Linked DNA regions of Homo sapiens. The protein of the gene in region 3 purifies or fractionates together with the protein of the main gene of each other region. This does not show direct contact. Each region holds a gene or a part of one and is shown on either strand. Other genes may lie near its edges.

The links.
Region 1: the proteins of RNF41 (region 3) and MTCL2 purify together in Homo sapiens (affinity purification with mass spectrometry; 3 studies listed by BioGRID and IntAct, with this or other methods). This does not show direct contact.
Region 2: the proteins of RNF41 (region 3) and CLEC16A purify together in Homo sapiens (affinity purification with mass spectrometry; 3 studies listed by BioGRID and IntAct, with this or other methods). This does not show direct contact.
Region 4: the proteins of RNF41 (region 3) and IGF1R purify together in Homo sapiens (affinity purification with mass spectrometry; 2 studies listed by BioGRID and IntAct, with this or other methods). This does not show direct contact.

Annotation. Positions count from the first base shown.
Region 1 is NC_000020.11:36,860,526-36,867,485, reverse strand, and holds the start of MTCL2 (microtubule cross-linking factor 2), read left to right. Parts: upstream 1-3,947; 5' UTR 3,948-4,141; coding exon 4,142-4,828; intron 4,829-6,960. UniProt on the Homo sapiens protein: Microtubule-associated factor that enables integration of the centrosomal and Golgi-associated microtubules on the Golgi membrane, supporting directional migration. Preferentially acts on the perinuclear microtubules accumulated around the Golgi.
Region 2 is NC_000016.10:10,947,540-10,954,564, forward strand, and holds part of CLEC16A (protein CLEC16A), read left to right. Parts: intron 1-7,025. UniProt on the Homo sapiens protein: Regulator of mitophagy through the upstream regulation of the RNF41/NRDP1-PRKN pathway. Mitophagy is a selective form of autophagy necessary for mitochondrial quality control.
Region 3 is NC_000012.12:56,204,903-56,211,927, reverse strand, and holds part of RNF41 (E3 ubiquitin-protein ligase NRDP1), read left to right. Parts: intron 1-1,359; coding exon 1,360-1,631; intron 1,632-3,629; coding exon 3,630-3,765; intron 3,766-4,178; coding exon 4,179-4,282; intron 4,283-4,617; coding exon of another isoform or gene 4,618-4,621; exon of another isoform or gene 4,622-4,760; intron 4,761-5,129; coding exon 5,130-5,481; 3' UTR 5,482-7,025. UniProt on the Homo sapiens protein: Acts as E3 ubiquitin-protein ligase and regulates the degradation of target proteins. Polyubiquitinates MYD88. Negatively regulates MYD88-dependent production of pro-inflammatory cytokines.
Region 4 is NC_000015.10:98,707,516-98,714,540, forward strand, and holds part of IGF1R (insulin-like growth factor 1 receptor isoform 1 precursor), read left to right. Parts: intron 1-46; coding exon 47-592; intron 593-7,025. UniProt on the Homo sapiens protein: Receptor tyrosine kinase which mediates actions of insulin-like growth factor 1 (IGF1). Binds IGF1 with high affinity and IGF2 and insulin (INS) with a lower affinity. The activated IGF1R is involved in cell growth and survival control.

The DNA.
Region 1 (6,960 bases), on a different chromosome or scaffold from region 3:
TGACTCCCCTATTTAATGAGGTTTCCCGACCGATTCCTCTAATTTTCCCATAGCCAGTTGCTTGTTTTTTAATCTGTATAATGAAAAAACAAAACAAAACAACTTTAGTTTAAAAGGAAAAAACACACCTCCTCTTGGAAGCTTTCCAGGAGTGAGTCTCCATTCAGTTTTCATCACGTTGGTCAATTTAGCAGCTTGAATGGGAGAAATGAAACCGTTTTTCTACTTGGGTAATCAGCATCTTCACTTCCTATGTTATATAATTCTTACAAGGTAATGCTTCAGTCTCTTTTGAGTAGCGCTTTCTGCAGCACACACTGTGTGTCTGTGCTGGGCACTTCGCAGCCCAATAGGGTACCACAACAGGCCCTGGAATTGGGCAGCTCTGGGTTCAAGTCAATCCCAGCCCTGCCACATCCAAGCTGTGTGACCTTGGTCACACATTCCAGCTACCCAGTGTTATGTAACAAATGACCCCAAAACTTAGTGGCCGAAAACAACAATACTTATTTTGCAGTTTGGGCAGGGTTGGTGAGACAGCTCATTTCTGCTCCACTTGTCCACTGGGGCAGCTCCAAGTCTGGGGGCTGAATCATCTGCAGGCTCACTCTCTCACATGTCTGGTGGTTAGTGGGGACCAGAGCTGGAGTTGTTGGCTAGATCACCTTCATGCGGTCTCCCCATGAGGCCTGGGCTTCCTCCTATCATGGTGGGTGAGTGGCCAGAGAGACAGAGAGAGAGAAAGAGAGAGAGAAGCAAGCTGGGTGGAATCCATGTTGCTTTTTATGACCTAACCTTGGAAGTCACAGATGAACACTTCTGCCATACTCTGTTGGTTGAGACAGTCACAAGATCTGCTGAGATTCAAGGTGGGGGCACACAGTGCCCCCACACACGTGCCGCACACATGTGCCGCTCAATTGGAGGAGCATCAGTGTCACATTGTAAGAAGAGCAATTGGGATGAGATATACCCTTTGGAAAATATTAATCAGTCACAAGAAGTATCTTCACCTTTTGGAGATCCTTTACTGAAATGTGGAGCACAGAGCCCGGCACACAGGAAGAGGCCACGCATCACACAGCTGCAGGATGTGCCGGCGCAAGGACGGTCACCCCGTCTACAATGTAGCCAGTTCTGGACTCTCAACAAGTCTTATCTCCTTTGTGGTATCCCTGGTCTGAACTGACCCTGAGTCCACAGCCCCTACGTCAGCCCCACCTAGTCCCTCCCCACCAGAGCCCTGTTGTTCTCAAGGCTTCCCTGGGTCTACAATGTAGATTCTTGACTCCCCAAATCCAAAGCACCTCAGAGCAGGTGGGACCCACAGGCCCCTCCCTGGCCAGCCATGAGTGTTGGGCCCAGAGAGGATAGGTGGTAGAGCCAGGACTCAGATCCCTGCCCTAGAAGAGAGATGCAGGCCACTCTAATCTCAGGACCACTGATGTGACCAAGGGTGTGTCAGGAGTGGCTGAGCCAGCCTGGTCTGCTATGTCCCTGCATTCACACCACCCAACACCTCCAAACCTATGTTCTGCACAGGGGCAGAAACTGAAGCACAGAGAGAGGACACACTTTCCAAGAGCTTCACAGCATCTTTCTGTGCCAGACTAGATGCAGCCTACTAGAGCCAGGGGCATCTGAGCTGGATGGACCCTGTCATCTGTTACATTAGACCAGAGCAGGTGGGGACTCTGAGGCCCGGAATGTGGGAAGGCCTGCCCTGGGTCACTAGCCTGCGGCTCCCACATCCTTCTCCAGCACTCCTGCCCACATGCCATGCCACCCTGTTTGTGCTGAGTCTTTTGTGGTCCCCCCCAACACACACTGTGTGCTCCATGAGTTCAGGCACTGACATGCCCACCACTGCGTCCCTCAGTGTACCTGGCGCCTGTGCAAACAGGGTTTGTGGACAGTCAGTGGGCCGTGAGGGGAGCTGGTGTCTTGCTAGGAGGGGGTGGGGATGCCCCTGCGGAAGTGTTTGCCAAGAGCCTGCTGAGTGCCTGCTCCTCACTTGGCCGTATGGAGGGCACCTAGCGTTGGGGTGGAGGAGCACTCACTCACCTGGATCCAGATGAAGTCATGCCTCTGGAGAGAGGGGATGCCCCAGGAGTGTATTCACAGCGTGTGGGGGAGGTGGGACAGAGACAAAGAAGTGGACCTGGTGCCTGCTGTGTCACAGGCAGGTGCAGAGGTGAAGGAAGGGAATTGGGGGAGGAAGAAGAAGGAGAAAATGGGCAGGAGGAAGAAGAGGGGAAAGAGGAGGAAAAGGAAGACTTGGAAAAGGAGGGGGGAAAGGAAGGGGAAAGATGGGAGAAGAAGGAGGAAGAAAGAGCAGGGGATAAATGGGAGGGGGAGGAGAGAACAGGAGGAGAAAGAGGTTGTAAAGGGGCAAAAACAGCCCTGCCCTTCTGGTGGCAAGGGGTGTGGGGCACCCTAAGGACGAGGGTACATCTGTGGGGCAAAGCACTCAATCCAGCTCTGCCCTGCGGTGGCTCAGGGATGGGGGCGTAGCGGCCAGGCGGTGTGGGGGCTGGGGAAGGTGTGAGAGACATGGGAAAATCAACACGGCCAGGAGCCAAGGAGACGCCCAGACGCCCGGGAGGAAAGAAAACACGCCCATCAGAGCTCAAGTCCTCCTGCACTGCTCCTGGTGGGGACGTGTGGGGTCAGGGCAACCGTCCCAGCCCATGCCAGCCCCCACGGGGGCCAAAACCGCCTTCCAAAGCATCCGCTAGGCTGACATCTCGTAATAGGTCCCCTCCATTTTATTTTTGTTTTTATTTATTTGTTTATTTTTTTGAGATGGAGTCTAGCTCTGCCACCCAGACTGGAGTGCAGTGGCGCGACCTCGGCTCACTGCAACCTCCGCCTCCCGGGTTCAAGCGATTCTCCTGCCTCAGCCTCCCGAGTAGCTGGGATTACAGGCACGCGCTACCACGCCCGGCTAATTTGTGTATTTTTAGTAGAGACGGGGTTTCATCATGTTGGTCAGGCTGGTCTCGAACTCCTGACCTCGTGATCCACCCGCCTCGGCCTCCCAAAGTGCTGGGATTACAGGCATGAGCCACCGCGCCTAGCTACGGGTCGCTTCCATTTTAGCCGTACAGAGCCTGAAACCCGGGTCGGGGGCGCATGGGGAGAAATATCCGCCGGTCAAGGTGCGCGAGCCAGGCATGCACACAGGGCTTCACGGTCCCTATGCCAGGAGAGGGAAGCCGAGGCAGGGGGAGCCCGAGCGCGCCCGGGAGGTGTGAGCTTTGGGTCCCATCGGCGCCGCCTAGACCGTGAGCTTGGCGCGTGCACCCCAGGCTTCAGTTTACGCATCTGTGCGATGGGATCGCGGCTCCGGCGATGCCGGCTAAGGGGGCGGAGTTCGCGCACGCTCGGCACGGGGCGAGGGGCGAGGCGCTGGGCGTGCATGGATGCGGGTTCCTGCGAACTGAGGTCCGCCCGGCCTCGGCCCGGGAGTCCCGGCTCCCGCCGCTCTCGCAGGCCCTGCCCGGACGCCGGGCGCAGGGGCGCCTCCGCCGGGTGCCTTCCCCGAGCGGGCAGGGGAGGAGGCGGCGGAGCGGAGGAGGAGGGAGCCCGGGCCGCGGCTGCCCGCGCCAGCCTGACCCTCGAAGGGGTCGCTGTTGCCTCGCAGATCCCTCCCTCGCTCCCTGCCTGCGTCCCTCCCTGCCGCTCCCGCCGCGTCCGCCTTTTGTTCGCGGAACCGCGCGCCCCCGAGCCGAGGCGGCGGGGCGGGGAGCTGGCGGGGCTGCGCGGGGGGCGGGCTGCGCCGGGCGGAGCCGGGGCCCGGGCCGCAGCCGGACTCGGAGCCCGAGGGAGCGATCGGCGTGCGGGCGGCGGGGGCCCGGGCGCGCTCCGGGGGCGCGGCGAGGCCGAGGGGGCGGGCGCCGGGCGGAGCCGCAGCCGGAGCCGGGGCGCCTGGAGGCGGTCGGGCCGCACTCTCCGAGCCCAGAGCAGCGGAGAGACCGCGCGGCGGGGCTTGGGACGGGGACGCGGTGTCGGGGCCGAGGTGGGCCGAGAGCAGCCGCAGCCCCAGCGGCCGGAGCCGCGCCGGGTCCCTCCCCAGGGACGTCGAGGCCGGGCGGGCCTGGGCCATGCGCGCAGCTCGCTGAGGCCGAGGGAGGCCGCGATGGAGGCGCCGGCGGCCGAGCCCCCGGTCCGGGGCTGCGGTCCCCAGCCCGCGCCTGCACCCGCGCCTGCCCCGGAGAGGAAAAAGAGCCACCGCGCGCCGTCGCCGGCCCGGCCCAAAGACGTGGCCGGCTGGTCGCTGGCTAAGGGCCGCCGCGGCCCAGGCCCGGGCTCAGCAGTCGCCTGCAGCGCCGCGTTCTCCTCACGGCCGGACAAGAAGGGGCGCGCAGTGGCTCCCGGGGCGCGCGGTGCGGGTGTGCGGGTGGCCGGGGTCCGCACCGGGGTCCGTGCCAAGGGCCGTCCGCGCTCGGGTGCGGGGCCGCGACCGCCACCGCCGCCCCCCAGCCTCACGGATAGCAGCTCGGAGGTGTCGGACTGCGCGTCGGAGGAGGCGCGCCTGCTGGGCCTGGAGCTGGCGCTGAGCAGCGACGCCGAGTCCGCGGCCGGGGGCCCGGCGGGGGTCCGTACGGGGCAGCCGGCCCAGCCCGCGCCCTCCGCGCAGCAGCCCCCGCGGCCGCCCGCCTCCCCGGACGAGCCGTCGGTGGCCGCGTCGTCGGTGGGCAGCAGCCGCTTGCCGCTCAGCGCCTCGCTTGCCTTCTCCGACCTCACCGAGGAGATGCTGGACTGCGGGCCCAGCGGCTTGGTGCGGGAGCTGGAGGAGCTGCGCTCGGAGAACGACTATCTCAAGGTGGGGGCGCCCGGGTAGAAAGGGAGGTCGCAGGGGTCGCCGGCTGTCACAGTCCCGCGGGCCTGAGGCACCAGCCGGCCCTCCTTCCCACTGAACAATCCGGAGAAAGGGGCCCAAGCCCTCTGGGGACCACTCTGAGGTGGATCTGGGGCTCCCTCATTCCCCCCGCCCCCTCTCAACTTTATTTGGGAAGCGCGCTCCTGAAAAAGACCTTGGAACTGGCTACAGGGCCCTAACCTGGGAGCGGGGACTTGAGAAAGCTTTGGAGCGTTCTGGGAGGCGTTGCTGAGGTGGGGGTGGGTAGCCAGGGAAGGGATGGATCTCTGCCTTCAGCTGCCCAGAACCTCCACGCCCAGGCTCTCCTTCTTGGGACGGGATTGATAGACACCGCCGCCAGGGAAACCTGTGGCCATCCCCTGCCCAGGAAAGGCCTGAATGCCATCCTGAGTCGTTACCCAGGGCTTTCCCGGGCGCAGGCCTGTCTCTGCCTGCCTTTCTGGGCGGGTCCAGTTTGAAAGCATGACATCTGGGAACATCCCCTTGGCTGGAGTCCACTTCCGCCCAGCCTAACGGTCCCACAGCCTGGAGGATGATGTCGTGGGAGAACCGGTTCAGAGGCAGCTTCCTAAATCCCAGGACAGTGTCTTTTGCCCTCCCTGGGGCAGACCTTGTGCACACAACAGCCCCATTGGCCCCTCGTGGCCAGTGCCTTTCCATGTTCGCAGTGAGAGGAGGGCAACTGCCCACCTGGAACAGGACTTCCCTGTGGCCATGTGGGGACCCTAGGGCTTCCCCCGGACAGCAGGCTTTGCCTTTGCTTTTTCAGTGGACATGAGCACCTACTGGGTGCCAGCCGGGCTCCATCTGCACGCTTCCAGGTGCCATGGCAGCTTTAGGGACAGCCCAGCTTGCACGTGTTGACCTCTCCCTGGGAGGCTGGAAGCTTCCTGAGCTCTCCTGCCGCTGGCTGGGCACGGTTTTGGAGGAGGCTGAAATGTTGCCGACTCTTGTCAGTGGATGATGGCCTGGCACAACACCCAGAGTGCCCCTGGCTGTGGAGCTCACAGCATGCTGCTGGTTTATGTCTGCCCTCAGCACTTAGGTTTTAACTTTTCCTTGTGGCTCTTCTGACCAAATGGGCTTCTCCCTCATTAGAGTGTTGGTGTCTTGCTCAACTATGTCTCTGTCTCCCCATTTTCCCCGGGATCTGCTCTCCAGCCTGAGTTCTGTAAATGCTTGTAGTATGGAAGGACAAGGTCTGTCTGAATCAAGAGACACCTTTCCCCAAGCCAGGCCTCAGTCTCCTCATCCGTTAAATGGGAGGATGTCTTCCCAAGGGCCGGGTTCGGTGTTGGCAACTGGGAGTTCAGTCGGCTCTTTGAGTCTTCAGAAGCCGGTGGTAAGGAGAGGGCAAGTGGAAGGTGAGGAGGAGGAGGGAGGTGACGAGCCAGGACAAGGGTCTTTTGCTCCTGCCCTCTTGGTGCTCTGAGCTGCTTCCAGTGAGTGCTGCCTGAATTGGCCTTAACCGAAACTCTGAGTTCCTCACCCCTGCCTCCCGGTTCCTGCTACTCACTCTGGTGAAGGGGGATGGGTTGCAGAGCTTTGCTTCAGGGCTCCTAGGCACCCATCTCCATGGGCCCCTGTCCATCCCAGGAAGTCATCAGGCTCTGACCCAAAGTCTGTTTGAGGCACCCATGACTGTTTAAAGGGGAAAACAGTCCCAGGAGGCTGGGGGTTGAGCCCGGGATCTCACAGGGGCCGGGGTCCAGCTGGGGACATCCCACGTTTGGGCCAAGATGGAACCGTAATTTCCACCATTCATTCAGTGGCTCAGGCTTCGTGCTGCTATTGGATCTGGGGTCTGTCGCTTCCTGACGGCGTGATCTTTGGCAAGTTACTTAAAGGCCCTGGACCTTTGCTTTCTCATTTGTAAAAATGGGACAGTAACACGCTTTCCAACCTCAACGGTTAAATGAGCTGATTCCTGCAAACACCATTAGAGCACCTGGTATGTAGTAAACCTCTGATCACTGCTCTTGTCAGAGGCACGGGACATGTTTCCATGTGCACCCAGCCTGTTCTCTTGTGGATTCTGTGAGGGCAGAATAGATCCTCTTCATCACCCAAGGCAG
Region 2 (7,025 bases), on a different chromosome or scaffold from region 3:
TGTGACCAGGACCCTGCGGGTTTTGTGGCATGTCCAGGTGGGGGCTGATAGCTGTGGGAAACAAGGCTGGAAGTAGGAAGGGGCTTGGGATTTATCTGACACTTCGGGTGACCAACCGTCCTGGTTTGCCTGGGCTGAGGGGTTTCCCAGGATATGGGACTTTCAGTGCTAAAACTGGGAAAGTCCTGGACAAACTAGTATAAACTGGTCACCCTACCAGTGACAAGTGACAGTTCTTAATACACTCTTACCTTGACCTAGAGCAGTATGGATGGAGAGGGAAAGTTTAAGATAGTTAAAAGAATTATTTATTTATTATTATTATTTTTTAAATACACAAGGCATCTGGAAACCCTCTTCTTTTTTTTTTTGAGATAAGAGTCTTGCTCTGTTGCCCAGGCTGGAGTGCAGTGGCACGATCTTGGCTCACTGCAAGCTCCGCCTCCCGGGTTCACGCCATTCTCCTGCCTCAGCCTCCAGAGTAGCTGGGACTACAGGCGCCCGCCACCACGCCCAGCTAATTTTTTGTATTTTTAGTAGAGACGGGGTTTCACCGTGTTAGCCAGGATGGTCTCGATCTCCTGACCTTGTGATCTGCCCTCCTTGACCTCCCAAAGTGCTGGGATTACAGGCATGAGCCACTGCACCCGGCCTAGACTTTACTTTTTTAGAACAGTTTGAGATTTACAGAAAGGTTGAGAAGATAGCACAGAGAGCTGGAAACTGTTTTTAGCTTCATTATTCTTTGTAACACTCCCAGCTTGCAAACTGGAAAGGAATTTTCCTGTTAGGGTTTTACTTTTGCTAAATGGTAGAAAACTTCATACCTGTGGTCTCTGTCTGCTGAACTGAGTTAGTGATTTAGCTCAGGCAGATTGAAGTAGTCAAGAGGTTATTTGCTACACACCATGGGTGGTTTATTGTCCAGATTAGTGGCAAGGCTGTGACATTGACTGACAAATGTCCACCACCAAGCGGAAGCCTGAGTGATGGAATCGTTTGATTGCTACTGAAACATCATCTTTACCAGGGACTGCAAGTCTGCGGCTGGTAGAAATTGGTCGTTTTTGTATTGTGGCCTTCATTCTGGTCCACTTTGTGTGGGGGTCAAGATTTTTGGTTCCAGTGACAGAAACCCAGCTAGAATTGCCTTAAGCCTCAAATGGATTGAATAGCTCATGTCACTGAATGGTCTGTCCCCGCTAAACCATGGCTGAATCCAGGTGTTTGGAGCCGTCAGAAATCGGCCTTTTTCCACCTTTCAGCTCTACCTTTTTCCTGTTGGTGTCATTTTCAGGCAGGCTGCAGGCTTACATCATATCAGCTTAGCATTCCTGAGGAAAAAGAGAGCTTCTTTTCTCAATATTGCCAGCAGAAGTCCAGAATTGAGATTGAGTATCCCTGGACCAGCAAGGTCTCATGCCACCCCTGAACTGTCACTCTGGCCAAAGGTATAGGGGGATCTGATTGGCCATTCCTCACTCATATTCCCTTCCCTGGAGCAAGAGTGGGATTAGCTCCACTCAAGCTAGTGGAAAAGAATGAGAGAAAAGAGTGGTTCCCCATGGGAGAATCAGGGGTTATTGCCCAAAGAAGGCGGAGAATGGATCCATGGCAGGTAGACAGACGCACACCTACTCTTGGTGCTTTCAAGTTTTGGCTAAGGTGGCACTGACAGTGTTAGAGCTTGGGGTACAATATTGCCATGTTGATTTTCTTAAAATATCGTCTTCACCATGCCACATATTATGGGTCCTAGGCTCCCACTATGTCACGTCTAAGTTCTTCCAGGCCTTCCCACCATCTAGTTTGGGAGCACAGGGAGTTAGGAACATCCTTGTTAGGCAGACGCTGTTTAAATGGAGACCAACGGGGTGAGTCGTTGTTACCAGGCAGCGGGGTGTCAGGTGGAAGGAAGGATGTTTCAGGCAGAGGAAAAGGCATTTGAGAAAGCCTAGTGGGGCAAGGGGAGCAGTGCACATTGGCAGAACTCACGTGGTTCAGCAGGGGAGTGTTCACTGGGTGAAGAGGAAGTGAGGACCCAAGCTCAGAGCCATGCTTGGCAGTCTCCAGAGGCCAGGTCCCCTGGGGCCCTGTAAATCACTTTAAGGAATTCAGACTATGAGTGAGAACAGTAGGGAGCCACTGAAGGTTTTTTAACTACAGAAAGGCTGTGGTCTGGCTGAAGCTGGCAGAATGGATTGGATGAGGGGCAGACTGGAGGTGGGCCTCCACATGTGTTGGTGGGGCGGGGAGCAGGGGCTCTGCTGCCGTCCCCTGGTGAGTTACGGTAGCAGCTGCTGTCATCCAGGTGTATCTCCTGTTGGTGGTCCACTCACACACATACCTCGCCTGCCCACTTGAGGTCCCCTGCTCTTTTCCTCCTGCCCATCCAAATCCCTAGCTCTATCCCGAAAATGCCAGTTCTTCCCTAAAAATTGCCCTGGTGACTTCAGCCAACAAGAGTTTTGCTGTCTTCTCTAACTTCTTCTGTGCCTGTTCACACTGTCCCACACAGTTAACACATTATTATATACTTCTCATCGCCAAAGAGTGGGTCGGCTGTTAGCTCCTGTGCGTTCTTAAAGTTTCATCTCGGCCTTGAGTTAGACCCTCAGGAAGCTGGCCGGGGTTCCTGTCCTTTGGCTATCAGACATTGTCTTCCTTTGTTACATATCTTTTTTGTTGTTTTCTCCCAATTTGAACATAAGAATCATGAAAGCCTGTATGGCTTGTTCAGCTGGGTACTGGTATGCCAGCACAGGACGTGGCAGATAGTAAGCAATCAACAAATATTTGTCACAGGATGAACGAGAGGCAGACCTCTGTTTTCAGAAAAGGCCAGTCTTTTCCCAACAACTGCTTGTTCTCCCCAGTTTAGTCACAGCACCTGTGCCACAGCCATGACTTTCTCTAGGGCTAAAGCCCTAAAGAAAGCTAGGGTATAGCCCTGCCTATACCCTACACATCCCCGGCCCAGCCTCACTTGCCGGCCCTGTTTGACATCTTTGGGGGATGATTCACCAGGGGAAGCACAGCCTGTGAACACCTTCTCTAATCCTCTAGCCTGATTCCACCCTCCGTGAAGCTTCTCCTTGTCCTGCTGGCCAGAAGGCTGAACACTGACCAGATGGTGGTTTTCAGGGCACAGAGTGGGACACACTGGGGAACGTCTGCAGGGCCTCTGCCCGAGTGCTGAACAGGCCAGACAGATACAGGCTCTGTGTCTCCCATCCCTCTACCACACCTGAGACATTGTTATTTGGAGCTGTGTGGACATTGGGGGGTAAATTTCTAACCCCCAGACCTCCTATCATTCTGCTTATCCTTTCTCATGCCCCACCTTGCAAATGTACATTTCAAAATCTTGAAGGAGGAGCATCCTAATAAGCTCATTATGGTGCAAGGCATAGCACGTGCAGAAAATGCTGTCACTGAAATGAACTTGGACCTAGTATTCCTGTCTCTGAAATGGACTGAATTGCTAATTTTTGAAGGATATGGGGCATTATTAACTGTAGTGGTTTAACCTGTGAAATTAGTGACTCTTGAGAAAGCAGAGGCTATTGAGGCCAGATTTGTTTACGTCTGTCATCCTTGGTGATGCACCTCGAGTGTGTTGGTTACAGTTTCTCTTCTCCAGGCATTTCAAACTCTGAAGCTCATCTGTCGGTGGAGAGTTAGCTAACAGGCAAAGCTCGGATATTGAGACTGCATCTGCAGAGCTCCTGCTGGGGATATGAGAATACTGGCTCTTTTCCAGACAAATGGGAGTTAGAGCCTTTTATAAGGACTTTCCATAAGATCTGATAGTATTTTCATGCCTTTTTGGTTTATCTATTTGGTGTTTTTTTAATTTATTTTTTGTGTGTTAGGCATTCATAACCTCATGTAAATTCTTGGCCAATAAAATTGTTGCTTACTTCATTGTTTGCATTTCTGTAGTCCTAGAAGGGTTGTAATCATGGGGTCTGGAGTTCAGTCTGCCTGGTTGTAACCTAGGCACCTCCTGTGCTGCACCAGGGCCCTGGGCAGATGCCTCAGCTCCCAGAGCATCATCCCCAAAGGGTCGATTGTTTCTGGGATTAAACGAAGCACTCAGACAGAGACTGGCAGTAATAGGAAGCTTCATCTGTTTTACTGAGGTACATACATAGTTTGAGAAAACACGTTGTCATTCTAACAGTGGTTATCATTGTAAGAGAAACATTTTAATTTGCTGCCGTTAAGTAGCAAGGTAATTATTCTGTCCTTTGAAACTTTTCTGAGATAAAGACACAGCTTTCCATACAAAGATGGTCATAGCAACATTGTTATCACTCACACAATTAGGAATCTTAATGCCCTTCAAAAGAGTTGCTACTGTGCTTGTCCTTTCAGTGTCATACTGTGTAGCCATTACAGATATTTGCAAACAGTTGTCAATAACCAAAAAAAGTGCTTTTGTTTTAGCTGAGGTGGGAAATAAGATTGGCACTGAAATGGATAATGCAACATGACCTCAACTATGTAAATATCCATAGCAAAGAAAAAGACCCGAGGAAATAGATTGCAACTCCAGCAGCAGTCATCTCTAGGCACCACGGTTGCCGTTTCTCTTTCATTGTTGTCAAAGTTTCCTACTTCTCTAAAGTGAATGTTACATTTATAATCAGAAGGTTTTATTAAAATGGGCCGGGTGAGTTGGCTCACACCTGTAATCCCAGCACTTTGGGAAGCCGAGGCAGGCAGATCAGTTGAGGTCTGGAGTTCAAGACCAGCCTGGCCAACATGGCTAAACCCCATCTCTACTAAAAGTACAAAAATTAGCTGGGCATGGTGGCCTGCGCCTATAAACTCAGCTACCTGGGAATCTGAGGTAGGAGAATCGCCTGAACCTAAGAGGCGGAGGCCGCAGTGAGCCAAGATCACGCCACTGCACTCCAGCCTGATGACAGAGCAAGACTCCATCTCAGAAAATGACAACAACAACAAAAAGTTATTAAAATGTTTATATCTCTGAGGTGGTTGAATTACCTAATCTTCCAAAGCCCTGGAATTAGATACACCATTAAAACATTAAATCTTAATCCATTCAGCCTTTCCCCCCATTACATTCAAGCAAATGTATATTGAGCATCTCTTCCTAAAACACTGTGTAAAACGGTGTGCCAGGGCATTGTGGGACAGAAAGACGAGCAAGGTGAAGGTGTAACCCTCATTGAGCTTTGGAGCTTGCAGTCTACTGAGTATTTCTGTATACCAGCAAAAGACATTTAGAAAATGAATATTTGAAACAATATCATTTACAATAGCATAAAAAAATGTCGACTACCTAGCAGCAACTCTAACAATAGATCTGCAAGATTCCTGTCAAGTGAGCATGGAAACAAATGCTGTAAATATCAGAATGTTACACTATTGTAAATATGTCAGTTCTCTCCAAATTTAGCCATAGATGTAGGGCAAGTCTAAGAAAATTTTAGCACGTATTTTTGTGGAAATGAAGAAGGTGATTTTTGAATGTATATGGAGATTAAAAGGGCCAAGAATAGGCAATATTGAAAAACAGAAGGAAAGAAGTTGGAAGACTTAATTACTATATGGCAAGATTTACTGTAAAACTGCAGTAATCAGACAGTATGGTCTTGATACAAGGATAGACAAATAGATCAATGAAACTGGAGTATCCAGAATGAGACCCACATGGGTAGTCACCTGATTAATGACAATGGTGGCGCTGGAGTGCAGTAGAGAAGTGAGGGCCTTTTCTGTAAATGGTGCTGGGTCAAGTAGATTTCCATATAGAAAAACTTAATTTTGGCCAGTACCTCATATCCTACACAGAAATCAGTTCCAGATGTACTCAAAGTCAGAATGCGAAGAGTAAAACAGTAACTTTGTTAGAAGTAAAAAGCATTTCCTTATAACCTTGGGGTAGGTAAGAACCTCTTAAGCTTGATACAAGAAACACCATCCAAGGGAAAGATTAATAAATTGAACTACATTAAAATTAAGAACCTCTACTCATCTAAAGACCCAGTATAAAGGGAACGAAAAGGTAAGCCACCATCAGAGAAAGTATTTGCAATATTTATCTCCAGTAAAGGGTTTGTGGTCAGAGTATATAAAGAAAAGCAAGAAAAAGCCACACAGCCTAATTTTAAAAATGGGCAGGCTAGGCGCGGTGGCTCACGCCTGTAATCCAAACACTTTGGGAGGCTGAGGTACGTGGATCACGAGGTCAGGAGATCGAGACCATCCTGGCTAATACAGTGAAACCCCATGTCTACTAAAAATACAAAACAATTAGCCGAGCGTGCTGGCGGGCGCCTGTAGTCCCAGCTATTCGGAAGGCTGAGGCAGGGAAATGGCGTGAACCCAGGAGGCAGAGCTTGCAGTGAGTGGAGATCGCACCACTGCACTCCAGCCTGGGCGACAGAGCAAGACTCCGTCTCAAAAAAAAAAAAATGGGCAAAAGACTTGCACAGGCACCTCACAAAAGAAGATATTCAAACAGTCCATAAACATATATGAACAGGCACCCGGTTTCACTACTGGAAGAAAGCCCCCACGCAATATCACTGCATACCCAGCAGATGGCGCCACCGACCAGGGCAAAGAACACCAAGTATTGAGAGGCCAAGAAACAAATGGAGTTCTCAGACCTTTCTTCCTGGCCACAGGTCTGTGGGCGAGCTACTGAACGTCGCCAAACCTCACTTGCTGTCTTGTCCTGTGCAGTGGCAACAGTGTGCACATCTTCAGGTTACTGTGAGTCTGTAGGTCACATGAAGCCCTCGCAGAGAACCAGGCACGTGGGGGCTCCTAGAATCTTTTTTTCAGGACTTACCGCCCTGCCCTCTCTGCCTATAAGGGCCTTCTGGTAGTTACTAGGTCTTTTTCCCCCAGAAATTATTTAATAAGGGCAACAATAACAATAGCTAGCACTTGTATCATACATAGTAACTGCCAAGTTAGTTATCTGTTATCTCCCAACACCACCAAAATAGGTAGATACTAAAGTATTCAGGTACCATTGCTGT
Region 3 (7,025 bases):
TGATCTTGGCTCACTGCAAGCTCTGCCTCCCAGGTTCACGCCATTCTTCTGCCTCAGCCTCCTAAATAGCTGAGACTACAGGCACCCGCCACCACGCCCGGCTAATTTTTTGTATTTTTAGTAGAGACAGGGTTTCGCTATGTTAGCCAGGATGGTCTCAATCTCCTGACCTCATTATCCGCCCACCTCAGCCTCCCAAAGTGCTGGGATTACAGGCGCCATCCACCATGCCTGGCCTAGCTTTCTTACATTGAATTTTTGCCAGTAAATATGTCCTCCTCCTCTCTAAATCTATCATCTGAATTATCCTTCAAGACCCATATCAAATTCTGTCCTCTTCATAAATACCTGCCGTGATTGAGCTAGCCTGAAAAGACCTCACCCTCCTCTGGACATTTTTGGCAATTATTGTGTATGCAATCCAGATGGCAATTAATAATTGGCTGCCTTGTGTCATCTGTCCTATTGTCCTAGAATATCATTTGTATCTCTTATTGTTATATAACTTTTTACTTGTTTGTCTTGTTTCACAACTCATTTTTAATCTTGAGCACAGGGAATATATATATATATATTTATTTATTTATTTTGAAACAGGTTCTGGCTCTGTCACCCAGGCTGGAGTGCAGTGGTGCAGTCTTGGTTCACTGCAACCTCCGCCTTATGGGCTCAAGCCATCCTCCATCCTCCCACCTCAGCCTCCTGGCTAGCTGGGACTATAGGCACGTGCCACCAGGCCCAGCTTTTTTTTTTCGAGATGTATTGCCCAGGCTAGAGTGCAGTGGTGTGATCTTGGCTCACTGCAACCTCCACCTCCTGGGTTCAAGCTATTCTCCTGCCTTAGCCTCCTGAGTAGCTGTGATTACAGGCATGCGCCACCACCCCTGGCTAATTTTTTTATTTTTAGTAGAGACAGGGTTTCACCATGTCGGTCAGGCTGGTCTTGAACTCCTGACCTCATGATCCGCCTGCCTCGGCCTCCCAAAGTGCTGAGATTACAGGCGTGAGCCACTGCGCCCGGCCTATGCCCGGCTAATTTTTGTAATTTTTGTAGAGATGGGGTTTTGTCATGTTGTCTGGGATGGTCTCAAACTCCTGAGGTCAAGCAGTGTGCCTGCCTTAGCCTCCCAAAGTGCTGGGATTACAGGCATGAGCCACCGTGCCCAGCAGGAAACGTATCTTAAGCCTGTCCCCTACAATGCCTTGCCCGTAGTAGATCTATACTTTGCTGTGACCCAGTGGACCTCTTGTCGTAGAGGCTGCTCAAAGGCTTGATTGGCTTTGTAGAGTTATATCATATCCAGGCTCTTAGGTCCTGCTAATTCCCTTGCGCCCCTTTTGCCTTGTTCTCTCTTCTAGGCACCTCATTGTGAACATGCTTTCTGCAACGCCTGCATCACCCAGTGGTTCTCTCAGCAACAGACATGTCCAGTGGACCGTAGTGTTGTGACGGTCGCCCATCTGCGCCCAGTACCTCGGATCATGCGGAACATGTTGTCAAAGCTGCAGATTGCCTGTGACAACGCTGTGTTCGGCTGTAGTGCCGTTGTCCGGCTTGACAACCTCATGTCTCACCTCAGCGACTGTGAGCACAACCCGAAGCGGCCTGTGACCTGTGAACAGGGCTGTGGGTGAGATTTGTTCCCTTCTGCCCCACATGGATAAGGGCCATCTCATTTATGCCCCTGTCTCTGGCTGCCCTCCTCACTAGCTGAGGAGGTCTCTTTGGCATGTTGGCAAGGAGTATTCTTAGCCTCCTTGGCTTCCTGCTCTAAGATCTTACTTTCTTGCTGCTTTTCCAACTATAATCATTTTGCTCTTGCTTTAACAAAAGAAGGGGCACAGCAATTTAGTAAATTTGTGTAATAACATTAAAGCTTGATTGACTCTATTCTTCCCTTTCAGTCCAATACTACTTTCCGTTTGTCAGGTTGACTGCTATAATTGCCAGCCTTCTCATATTTCCTCTTGCCCTATTTTTTTATTTCTGTGGGTTATGAAATATTCGACTAAATGTTGATAGCTGAAGGGCATGTTAGCTCACACCTGTAATCCTAGCACTTTGGGAGGCCGAAGTGGGCAAGTCACTTCAGGCCAGGAGTTCAAGACCAACCTGGCCAACATGGCAAAACCTTGTCTCTACTAAAAATACAAAAATTAGCCAGGTGTGGGGCCGGGCGCGGTGGCTCACGCCTGTAATCCCAGCACTTTGGGAGGCCAAGGCGGGTGGATCACGAGGTCAGGAGATTGAGACCATCCTGGCTAACACATTGAAACCCCGTCTCTACTAAAAATACAAAAAACTAGCCAGGCGTGGTGGCAGGCACCTGTAGTCCCAGCTACTTGGGAGGCTGAGGCAGGAGAACGGCATGAACCTGGGACGGGGAGCTTGCAGTGAGCAGAGATTGAGCCACTGCACTCCAGCCTGGGCAACAGAGCGAGACTCCGTCTCAAAAAAAAAAAAAAAAAATTAGCCAAGTGTGGTGGTGCTCGCCTGTAATCCCAGCTACTCAGGAGGCTGAGGCATGAGAATCACTTAAAACCAGAGGTAGAGGTTGTAGTGAGCTGAGATCGCGCCATTGCACTCCAGCCTGGGTGACAGAATGAGACTCTGTTCCCCCTAACTAAAAAATAAAAAGAATGTTGATAGCTGGGGCTGTGAATATAGGGCTTCTCTGAAGGAATAAGTGCACAGGCAGAATCTGTAGGAGGAAAAGGAGAGCTGTGCAGTAGATAAAAACAGTGTGTCAAAATAAATAAATAGGCCCCGTGCGGTGGCTCACGCCTGTAATCCCAGCACTTTGGGAGGACGAGGCGGGCGGATCACCTGAGGTCAGGAGTTCAAGACCAGCGTGGCCAACATGGTGAAACCCCATCTCTACTAAAAATATAAAAATTAGCCAGGTGTGGTGGTGGGCACCTGTAATCCCAGCTACTCGGGAGGCTGAGGCACAAGAATTACTTGAACCCATGAGGCGGAGGTTGCAGTGAGCTGAGACCGTGCCATTGCACTCCAGCCTGGGTGACAAGAGTGAAACTTGGTCTCGAAAAAAAAAAAAAAAGGCCAGGCGCGGTGGCTCACGCCTGTAATCCCAACACTTTGGAAGGCCGAGGGGGGCAGATCACGTGAGGCCAGGAGTTTGAGACCAGCCTGGCTAACATGGAGAAACCCCATTTCTACTAAAAATACAAAAAGTTAGCCGGCCATGGTGGCGCGCACCTGTAATCCCAGCTACTCGGGAGGCTGAGGCAGGAGAATCGCTTGAACCTGGGAGGCAGAGGTTGCGCTGAGCTGAGATCATGCCATCGCACTCCAGTTTGGGCAACAAGAGCGAAACTCCGTGTCAAAAAAAATAATAAAAATACAAAATAAAATAAATTTAAAAAATAGATAAAACACTGTGTCTTGATTGGGGAAAGAAATTTAAGGAAAATAGACAGCAAAGGGGCAAGTAGGAAGCTTGGACGAAGAAAGTGAAGGGAATAAACAAGAGGGAGGCCTGAAATGAATGTTAGAAATTTTGGGTAGGACAAAATCTACTTAGCAGTTATCTGCCACAGAATAGGCCATTTGCATACATGTCCCAGGGATCACCTCTGTTCTGCTCTTTCCCCACCCTGGTCTGCAGCCTGGAGATGCCCAAAGATGAGCTGCCCAACCATAACTGCATTAAGCACCTGCGCTCAGTGGTACAGCAGCAGCAGACACGCATCGCAGAGCTGGAGAAGACGTCAGCTGAACACAAACACCAGCTGGCGGAGCAGGTAGGCCCCAAGACACGGGGGAGAACATATCCCTCATATGCAGATAACTGCCTGCCTGTGGGTAATAAAAACCAGTTGTGAACACACAGACCAGTGCTTACACTTGTGAGCCTAGATGAGTGGATATTCTGCCTGTGGCTTAGCAGGGAATCAGATTGGAGCTCTCCTTGACTTTTCTTCATCCCATTCATAGCATTAATTCACCTACCAGTTATCACATGCCTCCTCTGTGAAGGCACATTTGTAAGTACTAAGGAGACAGCTGTGAGTGAGACAGTCTTATCCCTGTCTTCCTGAAGCTTACAAACTGGTTGTTCTTCAGATCTCTCAGTTGCCCTCATTCTTGGATAAACTTTTGTCTTTTTTCTGCTGTCTGCCTTAACCATTATTCCTGTTCTTCTTCCCCACAACAGAAGCGAGACATCCAGCTGCTAAAGGCATACATGCGTGCAATCCGCAGTGTCAACCCCAACCTTCAGAACCTGGAGGAGACAATTGAATACAACGAGATCCTAGAGTGAGTGTCACTCAGGACGTGGAGTGATTTCATGTCCTGACAACAAGGCCTGAAAGGAGGAAGAGCAGGAGAGTAGCAGAAGGAGGGCATTGGAGAGCTGGGCTGGGGGTCACTGCTTCTCAGATATTGGCATTAAGGACAGGGGCAGAGGAGAAGAGGATAACCCTTAGCTCCACTACAGGATGTCTTATGTGTTTGGGTGGATGGAGGGAAAGCCTGCCCAAGGATGCACTTTATCCAGAATTAGGTGAGTACCCATGTACAAAGCCCTGTATTAAAGGCTGTGGAGTGCTAGGAGGGCCAAAAAGAAATAGAAGATATCGTCCTGTCTTCAGGTAGCTTACAACCCAGAGAAGAGGAGGCAGAGTGCAAGTCCAGGAAAGTGATCTCTAAAATGCAGCAAAAACAAGCGAAGTATACAAGTGAAGTCTAAGATCTCTTTCAGTTCTGGAGTCCTATACAGTTCATAGAGTAAACTGTAAGTGTGAATCAATATATACAGGGCAAATAGTGCTGAGTGGGACATAGGATAGAGGAATAATTGTTTTATTCACTAAACATAGAGCACTAACTGTGTTAGGCGCTATATGTGCTAAGTATTGGAATTTCAAAGAAAAGTAACAGAGACAGAGTGCAGACTTGTGGAATTTAATCTGGTGAGTAACATGTGGTGACTCAGTTGGGACCAAGTGGGGAAAGATTTGGGGTTTCTGAGCCAATGATGGAAGGAAAGAAGGAAGAATAGGTAAGCTGAGTGCAGAGTGGGTAGTTATTTCTATTAGCAGAAAAAGCCAATACAGAGAAAGGAGATGAGCTGGAATGACCATCTTTAACCACCTCCACACAGGTGGGTGAACTCCCTTCAGCCAGCAAGAGTGACCCGCTGGGGAGGGATGATCTCGACTCCTGATGCTGTGCTCCAGGCTGTAATCAAGCGCTCCCTGGTGGAGAGTGGCTGTCCTGCTTCTATTGTCAACGAGCTGATTGAAAATGCCCACGAGCGTAGCTGGCCCCAGGGTCTGGCCACACTAGAGACTAGACAGATGAACCGACGCTACTATGAGAACTACGTGGCCAAGCGCATCCCTGGCAAGCAGGCTGTTGTCGTGATGGCCTGTGAGAACCAGCACATGGGGGATGACATGGTGCAAGAGCCAGGCCTTGTCATGATATTTGCGCATGGCGTGGAAGAGATATAAGAGAACTCGACTGGCTATCAGGAAGAGATGGAAATCAGAAAATCCCATCACTCCAGCAGCTGGGACCTGAGTCCTACCCACCATTCTTAATACTGTGGCTTATACCTGAGCCACACATCTCCCTGCCCTTCTGGCACTGAAGGGCCTTGGGGTAGTTTGCTCAGCCTTTCAGGTGGGAAACCCAGATTTCCTCCCTTTGCCATATTCCCCTAAAATGTCTATAAATTATCAGTCTGGGTGGGAAAGCCCCCACCTCCATCCATTTTCCTGCTTAGGGTCCCTGGTTCCAGTTATTTTCAGAAAGCACAAAGAGATTCAATTTCCCTGGAGGATCAGGACAGAGGAAGGAATCTCTAATCGTCCCTCTCCTCCAAAACCAGGGAATCAGAGCAGTCAGGCCTGTTGACTCTAAGCAGCAGACATCCTGAAGAAATGGTAAGGGTGGAGCCAAATCTCTAGAAATAAGTAGTGAGGCCGTTAATTGGCCATCACTGATGGCCCTTAGGGAAAGACTGGACCTCTGTGCCAAGCAGTATCCCTGTTCAGCCCACCTTAAAGGTGTAGGCACCCACTGGGTCTACCAGTATGCAGGTTGGGATACTGAAAATTTCCAGATGAGCTCTTCTTTCCTACAAGTTTTCATAATTAGGGAATGCCAGGGTTTAGGGTAGGGGTTAATCTGTTGGGGGTTGATGTGTTTAGCAAGAAGCTACTCCTAGCTTTTGCTAAAATATGGTTGGCACTGCCTCTTGTGGCACAGGCCATAATTGTTCCATAGACCCCTCTCTAGCCCTGTGACTGTAGTTAGTTACTTTGATAATTTTCTTTGGCCATTGTTTGTTTATATTTCACAAACTCCACCTACTGCCCCCCCCCCTCTTTTTTTTAAGAATGGCCTGATCATGGCTATCTCAGCCACATTGTTGGCAATTTAATTTATTTACTTCCTTTTTTTTTTTTTAAGAAAGGAAAAAAGAAAAAAAAATCAAACTTGAAACTTTTCTTTTGATGTTCCTATTGTGGGGGTTCTGGATAGGGTGGGACAGGGATGGGGGTGTGTTTTATATTTTTTCCTTTTCAGCACAACCTTTGGCTTTAATATAGGAAGAGCCAAGGGAGTCCTCGGCTGAACTTACGATATCTGCCCCAAACCTCTGTAACCCCAACTGAAATGAGGAGCTTCCTCTCTTCCTGTGAAGGATATGACAGTCCAGCATCGATGCCTGTGCCCTCTGGAAAAATTTCCTCCTAGCCCTTCCAGGGCCTTATCATAAAACTCTGGATTTAGAGTATTCATTTTGAAGGCAACTCCCCCTTCCCCAAGTTTCCTTGGAGCTGTATAGCTGGGTTCTAAGCTTCACCATGCAAATCAGAAATTTTATCTCTAAGTACAGGCTGTGCCGTGTCTCACCCACACCCCCCTGGGGACTTCAGTTCCATTTCAGGTTACCTGGGGTATACCTTGATCCCTAGAGTGACTGGCAGAGTAAGAGAAGGGGAGAGATAATAGGTGTGATTATTTTAATATGGAGGTGGGAGTGTGG
Region 4 (7,025 bases), on a different chromosome or scaffold from region 3:
ATTATTTCCTTCTAACTGAGACGTTTACCCTCTTGTCTCCCTTCAGTCTGCGGGCCAGGCATCGACATCCGCAACGACTATCAGCAGCTGAAGCGCCTGGAGAACTGCACGGTGATCGAGGGCTACCTCCACATCCTGCTCATCTCCAAGGCCGAGGACTACCGCAGCTACCGCTTCCCCAAGCTCACGGTCATTACCGAGTACTTGCTGCTGTTCCGAGTGGCTGGCCTCGAGAGCCTCGGAGACCTCTTCCCCAACCTCACGGTCATCCGCGGCTGGAAACTCTTCTACAACTACGCCCTGGTCATCTTCGAGATGACCAATCTCAAGGATATTGGGCTTTACAACCTGAGGAACATTACTCGGGGGGCCATCAGGATTGAGAAAAATGCTGACCTCTGTTACCTCTCCACTGTGGACTGGTCCCTGATCCTGGATGCGGTGTCCAATAACTACATTGTGGGGAATAAGCCCCCAAAGGAATGTGGGGACCTGTGTCCAGGGACCATGGAGGAGAAGCCGATGTGTGAGAAGACCACCATCAACAATGAGTACAACTACCGCTGCTGGACCACAAACCGCTGCCAGAAAAGTAAGAATGATGCTGACTGCTGCTTTCTCTCTGCCTCTCTCTCTCCTCTCCTCCTCCTTGACCTCCCTTCTCTTCTGAGTGCACGAGTTCCGCTGGGCAGGGTGCAGTCGTGTTGCATTTAGGACGTGGCATGCCTGCTGTGCGGAAGTGGTTCCCAGTGGGGGTCTTGGTTGGCTTTCCTTTGCATCTGGGACTCTTGGATTGCGGGACTGTGGCGTGGCTGGAGGCCATCATGGCTGCTGTCAAGACTGTTCAAATCACATGTTAGAAATAATCCAGCACACTCCTGGGCTAGACACTTGCTGACCTTCAGCTTTGAATTCCTGATGAGAAAGGTGACCTGGTGTGCTTGGAAGTCCCTGAGCCTTGGCAGCTGGGGGCTGCTTATGTGTCAGCTCTTTCATCCTTTGTGCGAAGTGATATTTTTTGTTCTGCAGGACTTCCTTAGTTTGAATGGACTTGGAATATGGTTAAATAAAGGGAAGGTAAAGCACTAACTCATATCCTGTGAAAGTGGTCCTTAGGTCCTAGTGATGATGTTATGATACTCAGGTGTCCTGGTTATGACAGAGCACCTGGCCCAGGTGGGAGACCTCTGGACCCATTTCTGCAAGTCCCAGGTTCAGGCTGTACTTGCAGGTAGCTGTGTAGCAGGGTGCATTTTTAAACCTCTGGGATTCTGTTTTCGTTCTTTTATACCTGTTTACTGAACAGTTGTGAAAATCTTAAGATTTCACGAGTGAAGGAACTTTGGAAAGTATTTACTGTTCTGGGGGTCAGATGGTGGTATTTTGAAGCTTCTTGTATATTTATCTGCAATATGCTTATTTTCCCTTGAGAATAACTGAGCTCTTGCCTTCATGTGATCAGTTCCTTAAGAACCAGGCTGTTTGGTATTAAAATGTGACTCTGAGCCTTCACCTTATTGCATTCAGCAATAGTTATGTATATTGGCTAGGAAGCTTTTCCTCACTGGTTTGAAGTCAGTGTGTTAGCTATAAATAGCTATTATTTAAGTGTTGGCCCAGTTAAAGATGTAAGGAACCCATGTTCTCTAGTTATGAAGAACCAAGAAACCCCAAATTGTTAGACTTGCCTAAAATAAATAAAAGGCGAGACCCCACAGGGGTGAAGTGTGTAAAGTAAATAAAGGACAGACCTCCCAGGTAGCCCTTCAGTTCCCGTTCAACCAGTCCTGAGGCAGGAAAAGGATCTGTGTACCCTGATCTGCCACGCACTTTTCTATTCTGCAGAATTGGATCAGTGCGTATGTGAACATTGATTAGTGAGGGCAGGGGTCCCACTGGCTGCAGCCAGTACCTTGTAGAGCTCTGAGAATGCAGTCAGGCCACTTTAAGGTTGGCTGGAGTTGGAGGGAGATCTTATGCTAAAGTCACTTGTGTGGTTGATTAAAACTGCCCTATCATTAAGTTACCCACTGGTTTGAGAAAACAACAAAATATATTTTTTAAATAACCTTGACATTTAAAAATTTTATCTGAAAAGTAAAAGGTGTTATCAAGGGAGGCAGCATGGAGTAGAAAAGAGATGTTGAATGTGGTGATGAGGGCCAGGAATGACCTTGGATGGGCCAGCCCTTCTGGGCTGTAGTTGGGCTTTTTTAGGATATTTCTAGGGCAGTCCAGTACATCCCTTAGTGGTGATCATATATGGGCATGAGGATGTTTTGAAAACTCATAAGCTCTTTAGAGAAGGGAGGTGCCATATGAAACGTCATTAAGTGGAGAGTTGTTCACGAACTAGGTAGGTAGTTACTTTGGTCTTGCCATAGGTTTTTGGCTGTTTCTGATGAGCTACTGATTGAAGACCCCTGGGGTAGGGGTGAGGCCTGCATTCTGGGTCCAAGTCTAAGAGTGGCGACTAGAAATGAGCAAGTTATTTAAATTGCCTGGGCCTTGGTTTCTTCATATGTGGAATGGGGTAAAGCCTGCCTTCCTCATAGGGCTGTTGGAAGATGAAAAGGAGGAAGGAAAAGCACCGTGAAAATGTTAACGATGGTTAGAAGGTGGGCTCTGCTGGTGACAGACAGAGCCTTGATATCACCTGTTGGTTGGTCACCTGCTTCCCCAAGGCCACGCCCTGCAGCCTTCTCCTTGACCATCCCAGCCCTGCTGATGTTCCTTGTGATTTCACAATGGAGTACTTATATAAAATTGGTAACTGCTTTCCGGGAAATTGACTTCCCTTCCCCTTGTCCTGAAAACTCAGGCATGGGCATATTTCTTGGAGATTTTCTAGTTGAATCAGAACTTCCTCTTGGTTTGCGTAGATTCCATTTAGACCTGCATTGTCCAGTGTGGTAGCCGCTTATTGAGTAAGCCACGTGGCTTATTGAGTACTTGAACTGTGGCTTGTCCGAATTGGGACTGCTTTAGGTGTAAAATATACACTAGATTTCCAAGACATAGTATAGCAAAAACTCTGTACACCATTTCATTAATAATTACTATGTTGATAACATGTTGAAATATAACATTTTGGATATATTAGATTAAGTAAAATGTGTTCTTAAATTTCACCTGCCTGTTTCCTTTTTATTCTTTTTTTTTTTTTTTGAGGCGGAGTTTCGCTCTCATCACCCAGGCTGGAGTGCAGCGGCGCGATCTCGGCTCACTGCAACCTCCGTCTCCTGGGTTCAAGCGATTCTCTTGCCTCAGCCTCCCAAGTAGCTGGAATTACAAGCATGTGCCACCATGCCCGTCTAATTTTTGTATTTTAACTGGAGACGGGGTTTCACCACCATGTTGGCCAGGCTGGTCTCAAACTCCTGACCTCAGATGATCCGCCCGCCTCAGCCTCCCAAAGTGTTAGGATTACAGGTGTGAGCCACCATGCCCGACTCTTTTTAATTCTTAATGTGGCTACTTGAAAATTTAAAATTACAGATGTGGCTTGCATTCTGTGTTGGTAAGCTGCTTTAGAGCATTTCTTTTAACACCAGGAGTTCTTCCCCTCATCATCTTTTTGGCTGAGTCGTCACTGCAGCGCTCATAGCCCCGCATGTACCTCTCCAGCCAGAACCCTTAGGAATCATTTGGGGAGCTCCATGAAGGGCATTGAGTCCAGGCAGAATGGCTACCTTGAGTTCAACATAAGCATTAAGATGGCCATTCGAAAACATTAAGCACAGAAGAATCCCATTCAGGTAATCTTCTGTTGGCTGGCTGTAGAACTACGGAGAACATCTGGAGAAACACGTCAAGGGTGTGTGTGAAATCGTTGAGCCTACTCGATTTTGTCGTGCTGTTGCGCGGTTTTCACTTGGCACTGTCCTTTAAACTCCTTCTGTGCCGTGACTCTGCAGTGTCTGGCAGCGTAGTAGACTCTACTCCCTCTATGGACGTGATCCCTCTGTGGGTTCTCTGCACACTTCTGTATTTCTCGGTTCTTTTTGGATTTAGGAGTGGATTTTATACATTTTTGAGTCATTCCTAAAGAGCGATTGACCCTTAAAGAACTGTGTACAGTGGTTTCCTTTCAGTAAGAACATAGTTGTGTGGCACCCCCTGACATGTGGTGTGGTTGATTCTTCTTCCTTGTCTTCCAACGCCACCCTCTTATGAGTCTCTTCCTACCCCCACAGGTGCCGCTTCTCTGTCTCCCTTCCCTCAGTCTGGCTTTTAACGGTGGTCTCCTGACATAGTCCATTCAGGCTGCTGTAACAAAATCCCATACCCTGAGTGGCTTACACACAACAGAAATACTGCTCACAGTTCTGGAGGCTGGAAGTCCAAGTTCAAGGTGCTTACCAGATTAACTGTCTGGGGAGGGCCCACACTCTGGTTCACAGAAGCACCTTTTCACTGTCTTCACATGTTGGAAGGGGCGAGGGATTTTTTTTCTGGCGTCTTTTTTATAAGGGCACTAATCCCATTTGTGAGGGCTCCACCCTCATGGCCTAATCACCTCCCAGAGCCATCATACTGGGGATTAGGTTTCAACATAAGAATTTTGAGGGGACATAAACATTCAGATCATAGCATGGCTGGAGTTCTGTCCTGGGCTCTCTTTTCACTTTCCTTGTTCTCATCTCATCCACTGGTAACTGCATTGCCTCCTGTCTCCACCTAAACTTCCAAGTATCTCCAGCCCAGAACCCTTTTGAGTCCAGGACCTGTCATTCATATCCATCCCAGAACCCTTTTGAACCCAGGACTTGTCATTCATATCAGACCACCACGAGCATTTCACTACAGCCTCTGATGGTCTTCCCTGTTTCCTCACTTTTGCCTATTTTTTTTCTTTTCTATTCCCTCTTAAGTGGGCCACACTTTTGTTCCCCTGGTTCTTATGTCAGGAATGTGGGTGTCCTTTGGACACTTCCTTCTCCAGTTGGATACCAGGCCCTTTCCCTCCCGAATGGAATGGAAATGCTGCTTCAGCTGTGTTCCTCTGCTCCTCCCCCTTACAGCAGTGACATAGCCTCTCTCCTGCTATTGTGTCCTGTGGCTCCACCGAGCACTGGGGAGCTTTTCAGTATGCACTTTTTTTTTTTTTGGAGAAAGAGTCTTACTCTGTCACCCAGGCTGGAGTGCAGTGGTGCGATCTTGGCTCATTGCAACCTCCGGGCTCCCAGGTTCAAGTGATTCTACTGCCTCAGCCTCCTGAGTAGCTGGGATTACAGGCCCGCACCACCACACCCAGCTAATTTTTGTATTTTTAGTAGAGACGGGGTTTCACCATGTTAACCAGGCTGGTCTCGAACTCCCGACCTCAGGCGATCCACCGGTCTTGGCCTCCCAATGTGCTGGGATTACAGGCATGAGCCACTGCGCCCGGCCATCTAGTGTGCACTTTGGACTGATGAGCTCCCCTACCTGAAATCCTGTAGCAAGTCCCTATAGGATAGGCATGTGGTACAGTGTGAAGCTCCTGAGTGGTCAACAGCTACCCCGTGACAACATGCCACACTCCATGTGCCACTCCCTCCCGCCTGCCTGCTGTGTCCTTGGCCCCAGTGGTGCTCTCCCGTGCTGACCAGCCGGCACGGCTCACCTGGCCGAACTCTAGCCTTGCCTTTTCCTCTCAAGGATGTAAAGGCTCTGCAGATTTCGGGAGGCCTGTCTCCCAGCACCTGATGGGACACTTTTTGCCCCACTGTAAATTCTGGGTGTATCCTCCACTGTATGCTGTCACCCCAAGGGCAAGCACTGCATCTGCTTAGTGAAGGATTTATTGTTCGGAAGATACATTTTCCCCTTGAGCAGAGAGTAGCGTATCCTGGCAGTCTTCGGTGAGCCAGTTGTACCAGGATTATGAAATGCAGATGTTTACTGTGTCATTGTTGCTGTCATTGCTACTGAGGAGTACTGACCAGAATCATCTGCAACTCTTAGTTGGCAGAGAGGACCACTATGGCGGGTAGCTCTTTTCTTTCCTGCCATTGTGGGGATGATTCCAGGCCAAAGATGATGGAGAAGTATGGAAATCATCTGAAAGGTTGAAGCTTGGCACGTGAAGCCATTCATGACTTTGTAAGGCAGTTTTGCTGAAGGCCAGTTCTGCCCTGGGAGGGACGGAGGTGAATCCTCCTGAGTACCTGTGGTTTTCTTACTTCCTGCTGAATTTACCTAAGTGCCTGTTGTTTGCTTGCTGTGGAGGCTTTCTGGTATTTCATTTCAGGTGCAGATGCCTTCACTTTCCCACAAAAAAAACCCCAACAAAACCTAAGACCTTACTGCAACTAAGTCTCCAAGTACTTTTTAACCCATTGGGATGAACAGCCTGTGGTCTGCTCAGATCACCCTGAGTGCGTGTGAGAAGGCCTGGGCTTTGCCAGGAAATCCAGGAAGGCAGGGCCGGGCTGTGTTGGAAGCTGGCTTAGCTGGTGGGGCAGCCTTATTTCAATTAAAAGGGCATTGACTGGGAGCAGCAGTCCTGGAGTTTGTTGCATTTCCTATTGCCCTCAAAATGAGAAACCAGGAAAATAGCAGATTGGAGCCTTCGAGAAGGCAGTAAATGGCTGTTTTTATTGACAAAAGGAAAACATTTTACTGCCATCTCACTGATGGCATCTCACTGACTTAAAATGAAGGCAGGTTGTAGTAAAAAAAAAAAAGTCTACATTTTTCCACCGCCACGTTCTTATATCCTTGTTTGTCAGCCACTGCTCACAAGGGCAGTGTTGTCTTGCGGAGTAGAGGCGCTCTCCTTCCCTCGTTTTCCTCTATAGGTTGGTGTGGCTGACCTGCTAGATCAAAGTGGAGGACCTGTTTAAGAATGTGTAAATTGAAGGCTGGGCGCAGTGGCTAACACCTGTAATCCTAGCATTTGGGGAGGCTGAGGCAGGAGGATCGCTTGAGTCCAGGAGCTCAAGACTGGCCTGGGCAACATGGTGAGACCTTGTTCATATAAAAAAATTTAAATAATTAGCTGGTTGTGGAGGCACGTGCCTATAGTCCCAGCACTTTGG